2 linked regions of the Homo sapiens genome follow. Changing the gene in region 1 together with any one later gene gives a genetic interaction. Each region holds a gene or a part of one and is shown on either strand. Other genes may lie near its edges.

Region 1 (7,561 bases):
CTGTTTAATGCAGATATAAAGTTCAAAACCGAGATGAAGATTTTCATCAGTGTTACTTGGCCTTTCTATGGAGATTATAAATACTAAAGTGGTAGCACATTATTTGGTAAATAACAAATGTGATTTCTTAATGACGTGAGCATTCATATATATTACATTTTTTTAAATTGAATGAGTTATACTTATTATATAGTGTATTTCATGTGTTTTTCAAAGACACATAAGATCTAGTTTGTGGAAGAAGGGTTTGAAAATTTAAAAATACATATGGAGAACAAAGTTACAATAAGGCTAAGGATGTCCAACACAATGACCCTGCATGCTCACATGAGAAAATCACAAATTTGGCTCTAAGCTTTCTAGTAACTGATGCAAAATGGGAATCCTGGTAAGCAATACAGTTCACAATATGTGTAAAATAAAAACAGATTTGGTTGCTTAGAAAAAGAACTGTATTCTTGGCCTTATGTTCAGACAGCAATTTGTCTTCGGATACCTTTTAAAGTGGATACTGCGATGTAAGACCATGTATATGAAATAGCAATCCAGGGATAACAGGTTCTGAATGAGAAATTGCTGAGATGACCTTTAAGAAGCAGATAAAACATGTTTAGGTGATGAAATAGGAGAGGCGCGCTCTGATATATGTATACGTTTTGTGTGATATATACACATACATATAGATCTATACATGTGCACATACATAGACACATCTTCAAACCCACACTTACCTGTACATGTGTACATAATATACATGCACTGATCCACACATGCCCATAGCAATCTGTGTCCCTGATACTCCATGCTACCCTATTTTGGAATGCTTGGAAATCAGCTTGCTTTGAATTTGAGGACTTCCTATTACAGATGGTGCCAATGAATGAGAAAAAGGAGCAGGAAACTGCTCCACCATCTTCTAGGCTTCTGAGTCATTTCCGTGTTACCACTTGCTTTTTGATGATGCATGTTAAAAAAAAAATTTCTAACAGAATGTATTAATGACAAACATTATCTCTGACACACATCTATATCTTTTTTTCTTTTTGGCAACATTTGAGAAAAAGACTGCACGTATCTGAGCTTAACATCTTTGAGGAGACATTAGGAATGTAAGCAGAAGGTTGCTATCTGAGGATTCATTACCTTTCCCCACCCAGCTTTAAACTGCCTGATTTACATCAGAATTAAAGTTCCTGTACACCTAACTCTGTCCTAGATTGTCTATCTAATTATCAATAAATAACAGTTGTATTTAAGGGATGCCAGGTACAGTGATAACAAAACATACATTAGTAGTTACAGAGCGTGTCAGAATACTTGCATTCTCAGATAATGAGGTGATTGCAAAAGTCCAAAAATAAAGAGTTCATTGAATTTTGGTTTATACAATCAATGTAACCATTTAAAAAAATGATGATAATGATAGTTTTTCAACAAGCTAGGTAAATGGTTAGAATAGAATGCAAAGTTAAGAGCAAAATCCCAGGATATGAAGTTGTTGATGTGCTCTGATTGAACCTGTACAGAAACACACAGAGGCTATGATCTGGCAGTAGTACCCTGACATTGCTAACAGTGGTTGTATTAGACTGGCTGAGTTAGAAGCAATTGTTTTTTTTTTCCCTCCTATTTTCCTAAATATATTTAATTTGATTTTAATGACTAACATTTTTTCAAATTAAATAAAAGAATCTGGACTCAGATTATTAATCATATCTGAATTGCCTTCCCTCCCAGGCACCAAAATGTAACTTAAAGTTCTGAGAAACACTGAGTGAATGAAGAAATGTGCTCTTGATCCTAACAACCTGATCTTGAACCAGACGATTATCTGGATAGAACATTGTTAAACAAAATACTATATTGATCTTATTAAATATAATACATTGTTTGGTGACTGGAGAAAACATCAACTGCCTTTTTTTTCCAGATTTTTTTTTAAGAAAGCGTTTTGTAACCCTAGGCAGGCAGTGATAATCAGTTTGTTTTTCCTATGATAGCTCCTCCTGCTGGACTAGCTTGCTTCCAGTTACTGGAAGTGAAGGGAAAGGGAAGGAGAAGAGGGACACTGGCTTTAATACAGGGATTGTTGTGAAGTGAATGCCAAGATATCATTTCCCCTAACGCTCTTAAAAAACTCTCAGGAAGAGCAATTTAGAAGATTTTTAGGAAACTGTTTATGATGCCATTTGCAAGATTGAGGAAGGTTGTTTTTGCTTCACATTCTTAAACAAACTAAGGTATTTCCTTTGTAAAAAGTAATTACAGGATCTTAACTCTTGCCTCAGTTTGTCTAATTTTGCTCCTGTCTCCAACTCCCCAGGGTGCCGTGTTAACTCCCTCAATGGAGCACACCATGTCACTACAGCCCGCATCAATGATCAGCCCTCTGGCCCAGCAGATGAGTCATCTGTCACTAGGCAGCACCGGAACAGTAGGTGGCAAATAATTATCATGTGTCTCTGTAAACAGAGGAGGGTAAATTAATGCAGCCTGTATCTTCCCTATCAAATGACAGCCTCTATGATAACAGATTATGTCTAATCCCCTCTCTTCCCCCCACATGACCTTCCATAAAGTAAATACTCAGCTATTTCTTAATTAATTGATGAACTGAAAGTCTATTCTCTGGGTATCTCTCCTTTACGAGAATATAGCACCCACACGTGACCACATCTAGCCTTTTATGACTAGTGTCATCTATATAACTAGTACCACTGTCCCTGTGGCAGTGTCATGAAGCGAAAGACGAAGGTAATACAAGATGGTAAAAGCAGGGAATTATTTCTCGCTTATTTCTTCTTTTATGGAGTTTGGGAGTATTGAATCATGGTCTTAATATTGAAATATTTCACCAAAGTCCAGGGGACTCCTTTGGGTAATGAGGTTGAGCTGGCACCAGATCAGCTTCCAGATTTGATGCTTAGCATTTTGCTGGTAAGATGGCTAAAGGATTTTAATTTAGCCTCTATTCTATAGTGGCTTAAAAGAACAAAGGGTGGTGCGTTTTCCCCTTATACACTCAAAACCTACAGCTGTTTCTTGTGAAGGCTAAGCCAGGGCCACACATATCCAATGAGACTGACTAGAAATTTCTCCTGCCTTTGGGAAAGGATGACTGTCAGTGTCAGAAAAGCCAGGCTCTGCTGCCTAATCTGCAGTGACCTGTTAGAGGTCTAATAAGTCTTACCCCTGTGGGCTCTACCTGTAGAAACAATACTAGGTACTAGTTTAGGGGGCTGCTAGAAAATAATGAGGTCCTTTGAGGAGAGATCTTCTAAAATCACACATTAGTGATACTGAATTATTGAGAGTGACAAACTTTTTTATCTTCACCCATAATAAACTTTTTTTATCTTCACTTTGTTAGCAAATCCAAAGAAATGTGGAATTTTTAGTTTAGCAGATTCAAAAAGTAGAAAACAGTTTACCTTCCATATGACATATTTATATGCACTATTTAAGCTTTGAGGTGTAGCCCATTTAAATTTCTTCTTTGAGATTTCCAAATACATTATATCCATCTCACAATCCCCCCACGTACTCCAAATTTTGCATGGTTTACCATTGCCCATTCTGACCTCATTCTTCTTTCTAGTACATGCCTGCAACGTCAGCTATGCAAGGAGCCTACTTGCCACAGTATGCACATATGCAGACGACAGCGGTTCCTGTTGAGGTTGGTAGAGACCATCCAGTGACCATTCTGGCTATAAGTAGTTTCAGAAATGGGTAAATTAAATAGAACTCAGAAAAATCTACCAGACGTCAAATATTTGCATAAAGAATTGCGTTTAGCCAGATGTGGTGGGTCATGCCTGTAAGTCCAACACTTTGGAAGGCTGAGGAGGGAGGATTGCTTATGGTCAGGAGTTAGAGACCAGCCTGGGCAACATAGTGAGATCCCATCTCTACAAAAAATAAAATTGTTTGAAAATTGGCCAGACATGGTGACATGGACCTGTAGTCCCAGCTACTCAGGAGTATGAGGCAGGAAGAACCCTTGAGCCCTGGAGTTTGCAACTACAGTGAGCTATGATCATGACAAATTAGGGTAACAACATCCAGGCCACACCTCTTAAGACTCCCAGAAATATTTTCTAAGCCTATAGTGCCTTTCATACCCCTCGGACGTTCTGTCTTGTCTCTCATAAAATGATACTACAGACATAATAAGATAAATCTGGAGTTTGCAGTCCCAGTACTAAAGATCGTATCAATGATAATTAATAATGACGAAAAGAAATCAGTTGTAGTTAAGATACTTAGTGGAAAAGAGAAAGCTGTTTTGAAACTGCTACAGGGATGAAGAAGAAGCTATAGCTGTTTTTACAGAGGCTGTTAGTATGGCTAGATAACTGTTCTTGTTATGGAAGATACTGATATGAAAGAAAGAAGTCTAGCATTTGAATTATGGTTAGAGAGAAAACGTGGCATTTTCCTGCAAAGTATCCTTAAAATTTCAAGGAAATGTATCAATCCAGTTGATCTTGCCCACTAGGCAGATCCCAAAGGTTCCAATTCCAGGAAAGGATCATAGGACTCTGGCCTGTTGGTGGAGGTGGTGGTGGTGGTGGTGATAGTAGTAGCAGTAGTAGTAGTAGTAGGTGTTGGTGGTGGTGGTGGTGGTGGTGGTGGTGGTAGTAGTATTTTACTTCTGTTTGTGCAATTACTGACAACCACAGTTACCAGAGCCTACAATTCCTTACCTGCAATCTGAAACCCAAAAAGAAATCTGAAAATAAAAATTATCTTTGTAACTACTTTAGCATAAAACCTGACCTATGGCAAAACTCAACCTGAATTGAGATGAGACAAAATCTTGATCCCACTTAACTGTGCTGCTTCATGGCTTCCAGTGTAGAACTATTAATATGTTTGCTTATGAGGTGCAGCCCTAGACCCTACTGGAGGCATTAAATGATATACAGCATATGCATACCACATTTCAGATTATAAAATCTGAAAATACTGAATTCCAAATCACATCTGTCCCCAGGGGATAAGAGGGTAAGAGATTTGTTTGATATGCTGTAGCTTGATAAGAATAGGAAAGTCATAAACATTTGGATGGGAGGTGCTTTGGGTCTGTTAGACATGCCAGCTGCTTAGGGAAATGATTAACCTTGAAAGCTCTACATGACGTGAAGAAATTTACTTTAAAGAGTAACTGTTTTTAAGGCACTGTTGGATTCAGTCAGGCCTAAGTAGCAGAGCTGAGGTTTTTTCACTAACATGTCTCATCCATTCTGCTTTGTTTGTTGTAGGAGGCAAGTGGTCAACAGCAGGTGGCTGTCGAGACGTCTAATGACCATTCTCCATATACCTTTCAACCTAATAAGTAACTGTGAGGTATGAGGGAAAGGTCTTCATAACTGGGGGGCTCAAATCAAGCACAATCTATAGGGCTTTTTTTAAAATCAGAATGGTGATTGGGATAACTCGGATTTTATCATACTGCTTTAATCGTGGCCAAGGCATCTAGTCTTGTTGAAATATTAAAATCAGTGATTTTATGAATTTAAGATTAATCATTTTGTCTAAAGAGAATGCTTTATACTGAAGCCAAATGTATACTCTCCCCACTAAAAAGAAAAAAATAAAAATCTGTAACATCAGAGAACACCAAGAACCAAAATTGTTCTATAATACAAGTATCCTATATCATATTACTTTAATACTCAGAAACTGGAGGACCTATAGCATAAGATGTTGCTCAATCTAGCATTACAAGTTTAGCAACATCTTGATTATGAATTTAGATAAATGTCAATATCCTTAGATTGAAAGATTATATTCCCAACTCTCACTTGAACCACAAATTTCAAAACTTTTCACTTTACCATGCAGACTGTAATAAAATAGCTGTGTAGAACTTAGAATACCCTGGTTTCTGCATTGCCCTGGTGATATAGAATACCTTGGTTTCTGGATTGCCCTGGTGATAACATGTATTTTTGATTTCATAAAGTCACTCTTTAGAGACCCAAATGAATTTGGCTCTAAATTAGAAAAGAAAGTATTTTGCAAGTCCTGGATGTGACAGGCATTGAAAGTAACCATCAGTTCCAGAGTCTGCATTTATCAGTCTACCATCAGTGATGAGCATAACCTTTTTCAAACACATATCTCTTTAAAACAAGAAACAGATTACAAAGCTCTGTAGTGTTTCACACCAAATCTACAAAAGCATTTGTCTTTTATTTTTCTCTTCCAGATGTACAGAAAGGTGTTCTTACATGAAGAAGGGTGTGAAGGCTGAACAATCATGGATTTTTCTGATCAATTGTGCTTTAGGAAATTATTGACAGTTTTGCACAGGTTCTTGAAAACGTTATTTATAATGAAATCAACTAAAACTATTTTTGCTATAAGTTCTATAAGGTGCATAAAACCCTTAAATTCATCTAGTAGCTGTTCCCCCGAACAGGTTTATTTTAGTAAAAAAAAAAAAACAAAAAACAAAAACAAAAGATTTTTATCAAATGTTATGATGCAAAAAAAGAAAAAGAAAAAAAAAAAGAAAAGAAAACTTCAATTTTCTGGGTATGCACAAAGACCATGAAGACTTATCCAAGTGCATGACCGGATTTTTGTGGTTTTGTTCATTTTGTGTTTAATTTGTGTTTTTTTTTTCCAGCTGTATGAAATGGGCTTTCTGAAGTTTAAATAGTCCGACTTCACCCATGGTGTTCTGTGCTTGCAGTGCGAGTGTTGCTGTAATTCAGTGTTGCCGTCAGTGTCTCTTTTCTTAGCTTTCTGTCTTTCTTTCAACGTAGTGTGAAGTGTCTTATCCTTTTCTATGAATTCCAATTTGCCTTAACTCTTTTGATGCTGTAGCTGTTTCAGTAAAAGTTAGTTCAAACTAATGATGTAGAATGCTTTGACCAAATGAGCTGGTCTATTATGCCTTGTAAAACAGCAGCATAGGGCTTTTAAAAGGTAGTCAATAAAAGTTGCTGAAATTTTGGCTTTTTTAAATATGTAGTAGGTGTTTTTAATGATTTTTCACATAATGTGTAAGGTAGTGAAATGCAAGAAGGGAAAAATGTTTTGTGTGAAACACATTTTCTGACTGGGGAACTTTTATTAGGGTAAATTGTTTGTAAGGCTGTACGCCAACAGTTTCCTCTGATAGTTTGACTGATTTAGGATATCTGCTGTATGATGCAATGTAAAGTCTTTTTTGCCTTTTTTCAGGAAAAAAAAAAAGCTAACTTGATGTACTAGATTTAGTGTAGGTAGTGTTGGGGTTGGGGATGGGGGTGGGGGAGGGGAGTCACTGAATGTTTTGTCCTTCCTTTATACTAATGATAGTGCTTTAGAATGAGAATTATGCCTGAAATCTGGCAAACCGAAAAATGTTGCTATTGCAACAAAGTGGCAAAAGCTAAAAGTAAGGATTTATCTTCAAACATAAGCTGAGATAACGAATAGAAGCAAAACGATTGGCTACTAGCTCTCTCTCTCTCTCTCTATTAGGTAAATTTGAAAAATAAAAATGACTTGGCACTTTTAAAGGTAACTTCACCAAAGACCGAAGAGCCAGTAACCAGTAGCT
Region 2 (8,418 bases), on another chromosome or scaffold:
TTGATGCCTGACATCTGTAGGTCTTCAAATGCACTTACTCCATAGGCAACAATGTTCCACTACACAGGCAACAATGTTCCACTACACAGGCAACGTCCCACTACACAGGCAACAATGTTCCACTACACAGGGTTTAGGGTACAATCACAAATAAGACAGAGCTGCCTGTCCAAAAGAGGCCCCCAGTCAAGTAAAGCAAAGTACCTGAAATTACCATCACAATATAAACATGGTGCCATAGAAAAGGTAAGAACTCAGTACTGAGGAAATGTACAGAGGAGAGAGCTGTTAATTTTGCCTGGAAAATCAAGGAAGGCTTCACAGGAGAGGTTTCCAATACAGGCCTAGAAAAAGGAGTCAAATTTCACAGAGAACAAAGTAAAAAGTGGCACAAGCAAAAGAAGAGGCATGAGCCAAATTACAAAGGGATGAAAATGCATAGTGTATTCAGAAACTGAGAGAACTCAGTGTGCAAGGTAAATTCGACAAGGGAGTGTAGAGTGAGTAGGAGAACCAGGTTAGGGAGAAGCAGCACATTCCAGCTCTGCCATTTACTGGGTGACATGAGAACACCGGTTAACCAGTTAAGCAGCAGACAGGTGTCTTGTTATTTAAAGCAGCCTAGCATCTGAAACTGTTTGTGAAATCCGGCCCCCATCCCTTATAAGTCTTGATGAGACGCAGAGCCTATGCCCCATTACAGAAGCTGAAAAGGTTGATGCTCTTTCCCAGACACCCTTGCAGCCTAGAGCATGGGCATATAAAATAGGCGCTACCGATTAGGAACACCTGCTCAGACATTAAATCAGAAGCTAGTGTCACAAGGAAGGGGGCATGGGTTTTAAAAGATTCTACAAGTAGCAACAGCTGCAGAAGGATTACAAAACCGGCAACAATGTCAGCAATGTCCTAAGGTATGAGCTATAGCATCAAGTACTTGCTCGTGGTTGGCAATGACCTCCTCACTGGCCCATTTTTGTGGCACAATTTCACTCACTGTTCCTGGCTAAACAGCTCCCAGACTGGCTTACTAGTCCTCCTGGAGTTTCTGTGAACACAATATTCTTCTAACAAATTCTAACCAATCTGGTAGAGTTGGTTCCTGCAGCTTACAGATAGGGGCTCTGACTGATGCAGAGCCTCAGGGTCCACATCTGTGAAATGGGGATAATCATGTCTGCTTCAAAATCTGTTAAGGATTACATGAAGATGCCTATCTTACTTTGCACTTAGCAATATAGGAGCGGCTCATGTAACGCTTCCGCGTGTGAAGTCAAACACACATCCACATACCCCACACACACCATACCTAAGAGTACCAAGGTCTAGCTTTAGAAGGCAAAAACAAAGCAAAGCCGTTTTCTGCATATGATTAGATGTTTACCATCTGTACTTCATGAAGACAAACCATGTCCAGCCTACCCACCATCATAATGCCAGAGCCTGGCAGAAGGCTTATACCTAGTAGGTATATAATAAATATTTGCTGAATGAACCAATGAATGAACCACTGTACCTGCTTTTTTGATCATTAAACTTTCCCTGGCCGGGCGCAGTGGCTCATGCCTGTAATCTCATCACTTTGGGAGGAAGAGACAGGTGGATCACCTGACATCAGGAGTTCAAGACCAGCCTGGCCAACATGGTGAAACCCTGTCTCTACTGAAAATACAAAAAATTAGCCGGTGTGGTGGTGGGCACCTGTAATCCCAGCAACTCGGGAGGCTGAGGCAGAACTGCTTGAACCCAGGAGGCAGAGGTTGCAGCCAGCTGAGATCACGTCACTGCACTCCAGTCTGGGCAACAAGAGGGAAGCTTTGTCTCAAAAATAAATAAATAAATAAAAATTCCCTGATCTTTTTTCATATATAGTAACAGCTAGTTACAGACCTTTCAACTTTTCACTGCCATTATCAAGGTGCCCTGCCTGCTAATACTGAAGAAAAAAAAAAGCCTACATTTTGTTTTTTGGAGTATGTCTCCAATGCTTCACGTAGGTAACTTAGCAAAAAAAGAATAAGCATGAAAAAAATCCAGCTACAAAGGTTTAAATATTTGTTTCAAAATTACCATCTGGAGTATCTCTATCCTCCCCAAAAGCAGACAGACACTAGCTTACAGCAGTCTTTCAGGTAACAATCCTTCAGTCTGCTCTAAAGGAAAAATTCCAGTCACAAGTCCCCAGCAACTACTTAATGAACACCATGACCTAAGAGGAGTCTCAAGATTGCACAGTATCCTCCAAAGTGATTTCCTGATGTTCATAGATGACGTAGTTTTTAGGATGAAGAAAGGGCTTAGTGGCAAATCACTGATAGAGGCCTGCAAAGACTGTTCGTTCACATACTTACACCCAACATCCTATCTGTAATCCAGGCAGGTCGACTCTCCAAAATAGTCTTAAAAAACGAACGGCTAGAACAAATTGAAATCTGTGACTCACAACTAGGTGAATGCAAAGGAAGCTGATTAGGAAGCGAGTTCTCATTAATGGTGATGTATCTGAATGACAGGAGAGGTGACGCTTGAGCTAACAAAGTGAAGCATCTGATTTTAAGTTAGAAGTTAACTGAAGTCACGCTTTAGTTGAACACTTAAAAAATCAGACAAATCTATTTGCATTTTTGTATTCTATTTTTGGAAATAAAAGACACCCCTGACAAACGGAGTGATATACAGGGGATCCGAAATGCCCTAAATTGATGCCATTTTTTTGAAACTTCACCAGGAATGACTAGATTGTGAACAGGATTTCTACGCAGCACTTGAAGAACTTTCCAAAGAATCTGAAAGAAAAATTGTTAATGCATAAAGTAGAAACCCATTACCTAAAAATACAAAACGCGTTATTCCCCGATGACAGCACTTAGAGCTTTCTTTCCTGCTTAGTTACAATGTATAAAATTTTCCTGGAAGTTCCTACAAAAAGGGACACAGATCTGTTCTGTTCAAGCCTTCAAGTGGATACTTAGGGAGATCGCAGTGAAATACTTTCGGCCCCACGGGGCCAGTCTCAATAAAGTTATACCCAGCACGTGGGTGCAACTCACCAAAAGAAATAGAAACGCAATCGACTGTGGAGACTCTCAGTGGCAGAGGTGAGACAGCCTCCCAAACAAAAATCCCTCCAGGCTCTGGTCCTCCAAGAGCAAACCGCGCCTAAAGGAAGCCCGGTCCGACGCCAGAAGGGCCCCCGCCGGGGACGACCAAGGTCTGCGCCCAAACAAACCCGGGTGTGCGCCTCCCTCAGAACCCCCACCACCGGCAATCATGCCACTGTCCCAACCCGGAGCCCCGCGCGCGGAATTGTCCCTCACCACTCGCCCCTATCTCACAGTCGTCGCCGTGCACAGGTGCCATGGTCCCGAATCTCCCGATTCCGCGCCAACCAGCCCAAAACTGGCGCGGGGGCCGAGACAGGCGCCAGCCTGAAAGCCAATCAGCGGCTCGGGAGGCTGCGGACTTCCGGCCGGAAGGCCACTGACGTGCCGCGCCGCGCCGCGCTCCGCCCCCGGCCTTCCCGCGGACGCGCGTTTGGCGCCCTGTGATGACCCCTTAGGGAAAAGCTAGAGCTGAGGGGAAGCCGGAGGAGAGCAGGAGAAAGAAGCGGTCGGGCGCTGGAAAGGAGCCGCCTGGAGACTGCGCAAGCGCACGCATGCTGATGGGAAAAGATTTGGGCGCGTGGGAGAAAGGGCGCTCTGGTTCTCAGAGCCCATTTTCCCGGAAAGGAGGCGCGGGCGGGCAGGAGAGTGGGCGTGGTTGGATCGTTTTCCCCAGAGCCGGGAAAGCGACTGCCTCCTGCTGCGCGCCCTGAATTTTGCCTGATAGTTTGCTTCTCAGCAGTCTGGATACAGTGGCTGTGTGATTAACAACTTAAAGATATATGCTCCGTCTTAACCAAATAACCAGAAGTAGCATTACCAATAAATGGCCATCTGATCTCATATGCCTCCTGATGTAATGCGTATGAAAAAGGAAAAACTTCGCCTATATGGTCTTCTTGCAAAAAATGTCTAACCTGAATCTAACCATGAAGAAACAATCAGATGTATTCAAAATGTAGGACAATCTACAAAACACCTGACGTGAACTCCAAAATTTCAATGTTATGAAAAACAAAAAGGGTATTCAATTTTTGTGTATGATACAATGGCTGTAATGTGTACATCTCATGTTATCTCTTTCCAAAAAGGTATAACATTTTTATTAAATAATGCCTGCCACACATTTGTATTTTTTCCTACATTATTGCCCACATGCTTATTGATCCCTTCTTCATGTGACAACAATTTTGTAATATTTTCTCCAAAGAGGATATAAAGATAATTCAATCTGTCTTCTAGCATGGTTGATCAATACTTGTTTCTTAATTTCTGATTGTTTAGAAAATGTCTTTCAGCTTCATAATCATTTAATATCATGTTATGTGATCCATATGTTGTGATACATAACATGTAGTAATTTACACTTAGACATAACTTCCTATTTAAAGTACTACGACAGATTTATTCCTACACTTCCCTTTTAAAAACTGATGGAAGTTTTATAGTTTTATTATCAAGCTTTTTCCAACCAGGAGAGAACCATGTTGGCTAGTCATTAATAAGAACCAAATCCTTACCTTAACAATTTCACAGCTGATTACTTCCCACATGCCCGGGTATAACTCTAGGCATTTCAAACCTCTTTTCTCTTTCACTACTGCTGTGGTCTGAATGTTTCTCTCCACATAAAATGTATGCGTTGAAACCTAATCACCAGTGTGGTGGTGTTAGGAGGTAGGGCCTCTGGGAGGTGATTAGGTCATCAGCAGGAACCCTCCCTCATGAATAGGATTAGTGCCCTCGGAAAAGAGGCTCCAGAGAGCTGCCTTGCCCCTTCTTCCATGTGAGAACAGAGCAATAAGGCACCATCTATGGACCAAAAAGTGGGCCTACCCCAAACACTGAATCTGCCGGCACCTTGATCTTGGAATTCCCAGCCTACAGCACTGTGAAAAATAAATTCCTGTTGTTTATTAGCCACCCAGTTTGTGGTATTTTGTTATAGCAGCCTGAACAGACTGAGACAATGACCCACATACTTTGTGGGAAAAGACCTGTAGGACACTTTCTCTTTTTGAGATGGAGTCTCGCTCTGTCATCCAGGCTGGAATGCAGTGGCACCATCTCGGCTCACTGCAACCTCCACCTCCCAGGTTCAAGCGACTCTACTGCCTCAGCCTCCCGAGTAGCTGGGATTACAGGCGCCCGCCACCACACCTGGCTAATTTTTGTATTTTTAGTAGAGATGGGGTTTCACCATGTTGTCCAGGCTGGTCTTGAACTCCTGACCTCAGGTGATCCACTCATCTCAGCCTCCCAAAGTGCTGGGATTACAGGTGTGAGCCACCATGCCAGGCCAGACACTTTCATACCATGATATGTCTTCTGGCCCTACACTTTCAGTTCAAAACTCCTGGTAAGTCATCACACTGGGGTAGAAATATTCCTGGAAGCTATTCCTACACCAAGAAGTCTATGAATAACAGCCCGGCGCTGTGGCTCACGCCAGTAATCCCAGCACTTTGGCAGGCCGAAGCTGACAGATCATGAGGTCAGGAGTTCAAGACCAACCTGACCAATATGATGAAACCCCATCTCTACCAAAAATACAAAAATTAGCCGGGTGTGGTGACAGGCGCCTGTAGTCCCAGCTACTTGGGAGGCTGAGGCAGAAGAATAGCTTGAACCCGGGAGGCAGAGGTTGCAGTGAGCCGAGATTGTGCCAGTGCACTCCAGCCTGGGTGACAGAGTGAGACTCTGTCTCAAAAAAAAAAAAAAGTCTATCAATAACTTAAGTATATATGGCTTAAGTATATATGTGGGTTAAGTGCCTTCGACCCACATAAATAGAAGAAATAAGCCCAAACTAAATGCAATATCAACTCCATTTCCCCATAGTGGAATCCCAAAATGCCTATGCCTATTTCACTGCTACTATGCAAGAAGCGAAGTGTATCAGAGGGACAGTTGGAGGTTCTCAAGAGCTGATTGTTAAATATTCCAGTATTTTGTAATCTCCATGTTAAACTGTTGGTAGCTTGAAATCAGTCATGGTGGGAATATTTACACCCTGGAAATTGGCAAGTGGTACAAATCAGAGCTTTTTATTTTTTTAAGGTTTACCAGCAAACCACCAAGTGGAAAGTAGTCATATCTGATTGCAGCTAAAATATCTTACTTTTGTAGATCTACCATTTGATCCAGCAATCCCACTCCTGGGTATCTACCCAGAGGAAAAGAAGTCATTATACATGATAGATACTTGCACGCGCATGTTTACAGCAGCACAATTTATAATTGCAAATATATGGAACCAGCCCAAATGCCCATTAATCAACAAGTAGGTTAAAAAAAGTGAGATATGTGTATATATACATATGTGTGTGTGTATATATCTCACACACACACACACACACACACACACACACACACACACCATGGAATACTACTCAGCAGTAAAAAGGAATGAAATAAAGACATTCGCAGCAACCTGGATGGAATTGGAGACCATTATTCTAAGTGAAGTAACTCAGGAATGGAAAGCCAAACATTGTGTGTTACTCGTAAGTGGGAACTAAGCTACAAGTATCCGAAGGCATACGAATGATACAATGGACTCATTGTATCATAAGAATGATACAATGGGGACTCTGGGAAAGGTGAGAAGGAGGTGAGGGATAAAAGACTACACATTGGGTACAGTGTACACTGCTCAGGTGATAGGTGCAACAAAATCTCAGAAATCACCACTAAAGAACTCATTCACATAAACAATTAATTAAGTAATAATATTAATAAAAAGGATTGGGGTAGATTAGATGGGAATGAAGGAGGGAGCCAGGGTTGTTTTAGAATAAATGGAGCAAATAAATATGACAAATACTATCTTAAAATAAACAAATAAATAAAATGAAATATCTTACTTTTGCAAATGTTTACAAAAACATAAAACCATTGCTAGAACATCTCCCAGAGCCTTGCAAGTGGCCAATATGCAAATGAGAGGCCCTGGAGATTAAGTTTCAGCAGCTTTACTGTAAACCTACCTCTGTTATCTAATCATGCAAAAAAATCATAATTTGTCTTAAACTTCCTCTCTCCTGTCCAGGACCAGTTTTGCAAGTTTAAAGGTTTTTTTTTAACTTATAAACAAAGTAAAGCAAACTGAGACTGAGATACTATGTTCCACCATTTTCCCCCTTTTTATCTGTACATTTCTCTATATATAAATGTTATCCATTGCTGGTAAGCTTACAGTGTTGAGGCACAACTCATTTATTACAGGTGGCAGTGTAAGTTGGCACAATCTTTTGGAAAATAATATTGCAATATGTGACAAGTACCGTAAACATACTTGTATCTTTCAACCCTTTATTTCCACAGGTAAAAGTTTAATAAGAAATAATAGAAACAAAAAATGCAAAGACGTTAATGGCTGCTGTTTTCCATTAGCAAAAAGTTGGGACCTAAAAGTCCACATCATAACAAAGGTTTAATGTTGTGACATCAAAAAGATAAAATGATTAGAAAGACTCAAAATATGAAAAATGTTTATGATATTTCAGAAAGTGAAAACCACAGAGGGCAAAGTGATACATACCCACACTTATTTGCAATGATATATCAAACAGTTATTTACCTGAAAGCAATATGCAAAATGGAGTATATTTTGCCAGGATGATAGAATTATAGACTCTTTTTGTTTATAATTTGTCCTCTTTAATATTATATTGGAAGGATTAAAGACTCAGGTAGAGTCAGACTTAGGGTTTGATTCTTAGACTTCTACTTTTATGTGAATCACCACACTGTCTTCCACAATGGTGGAACTAATTTACAGCCATAAAAAAGAAACCAGGTGCAGTGGCTCACGCCTGTATTCCAAACACTTTGGGAGGCCACTCTGGGTGGGCAGATCACCTGAGGTCAGGAGTTCGAGATCAGCCTGGCCAACATGGCAAAACCCCATCTCTACTAAAAATACAAAAATTAGCCAGGCATGGTGGCGGGCACCTATAATCCTAGCTACTCAGGAGGCTGAACCAGGAGAGTCACTTCAACCCAGGAGGCAGAGGTTGCAGTGAGCCGAGATCGCACCACTGCACTCCAGCCTGGGCGACAGAGCACGACTCTGTCTCAAAAAAAAAAAAAAAAAAAAGAATGAGATCACGTCTGCAGCAACATGGATGGAGTTGGAAGCCATTATCCTAAGCGAACTAACATAGGAACAGAAAACCAAATACCACATGTTCTCACTTATAAGTGGGAGGTAAACATTGAGTACAAATGGACACAAAGAAGGGAACAACAGTTACTGGCACCAACTGAGGGTGGGGTGTGGTAGAGGGTGAGGATCAAAAACTACCTATGAAGT

Evidence for each region. Genes that interact genetically often act in the same process or in processes that back each other up.
Region 2: of RBMS1 (region 1) and POLA1, changing one enhances a phenotype caused by changing the other (phenotypic enhancement), as found in Homo sapiens cells (one study listed by BioGRID).

The regions. Positions count from the first base shown.
Region 1 is NC_000002.12:160,273,421-160,280,981, reverse strand, and holds part of RBMS1 (RNA-binding motif, single-stranded-interacting protein 1), read left to right. Parts: intron 1-2,323; coding exon 2,324-2,434; intron 2,435-3,598; coding exon 3,599-3,679; intron 3,680-5,267; coding exon 5,268-5,345; 3' UTR 5,346-5,352; exon of another isoform or gene 5,353-5,592; intron 5,593-6,217; 3' UTR 6,218-7,561.
Region 2 is NC_000023.11:24,688,904-24,697,321, reverse strand, and holds the start of POLA1 (DNA polymerase alpha catalytic subunit), read right to left. Parts: upstream 3,405-8,418; 5' UTR 3,361-3,404; coding exon 3,318-3,360; intron 1-3,317. UniProt on the Homo sapiens protein: Catalytic subunit of the DNA polymerase alpha complex (also known as the alpha DNA polymerase-primase complex) which plays an essential role in the initiation of DNA synthesis.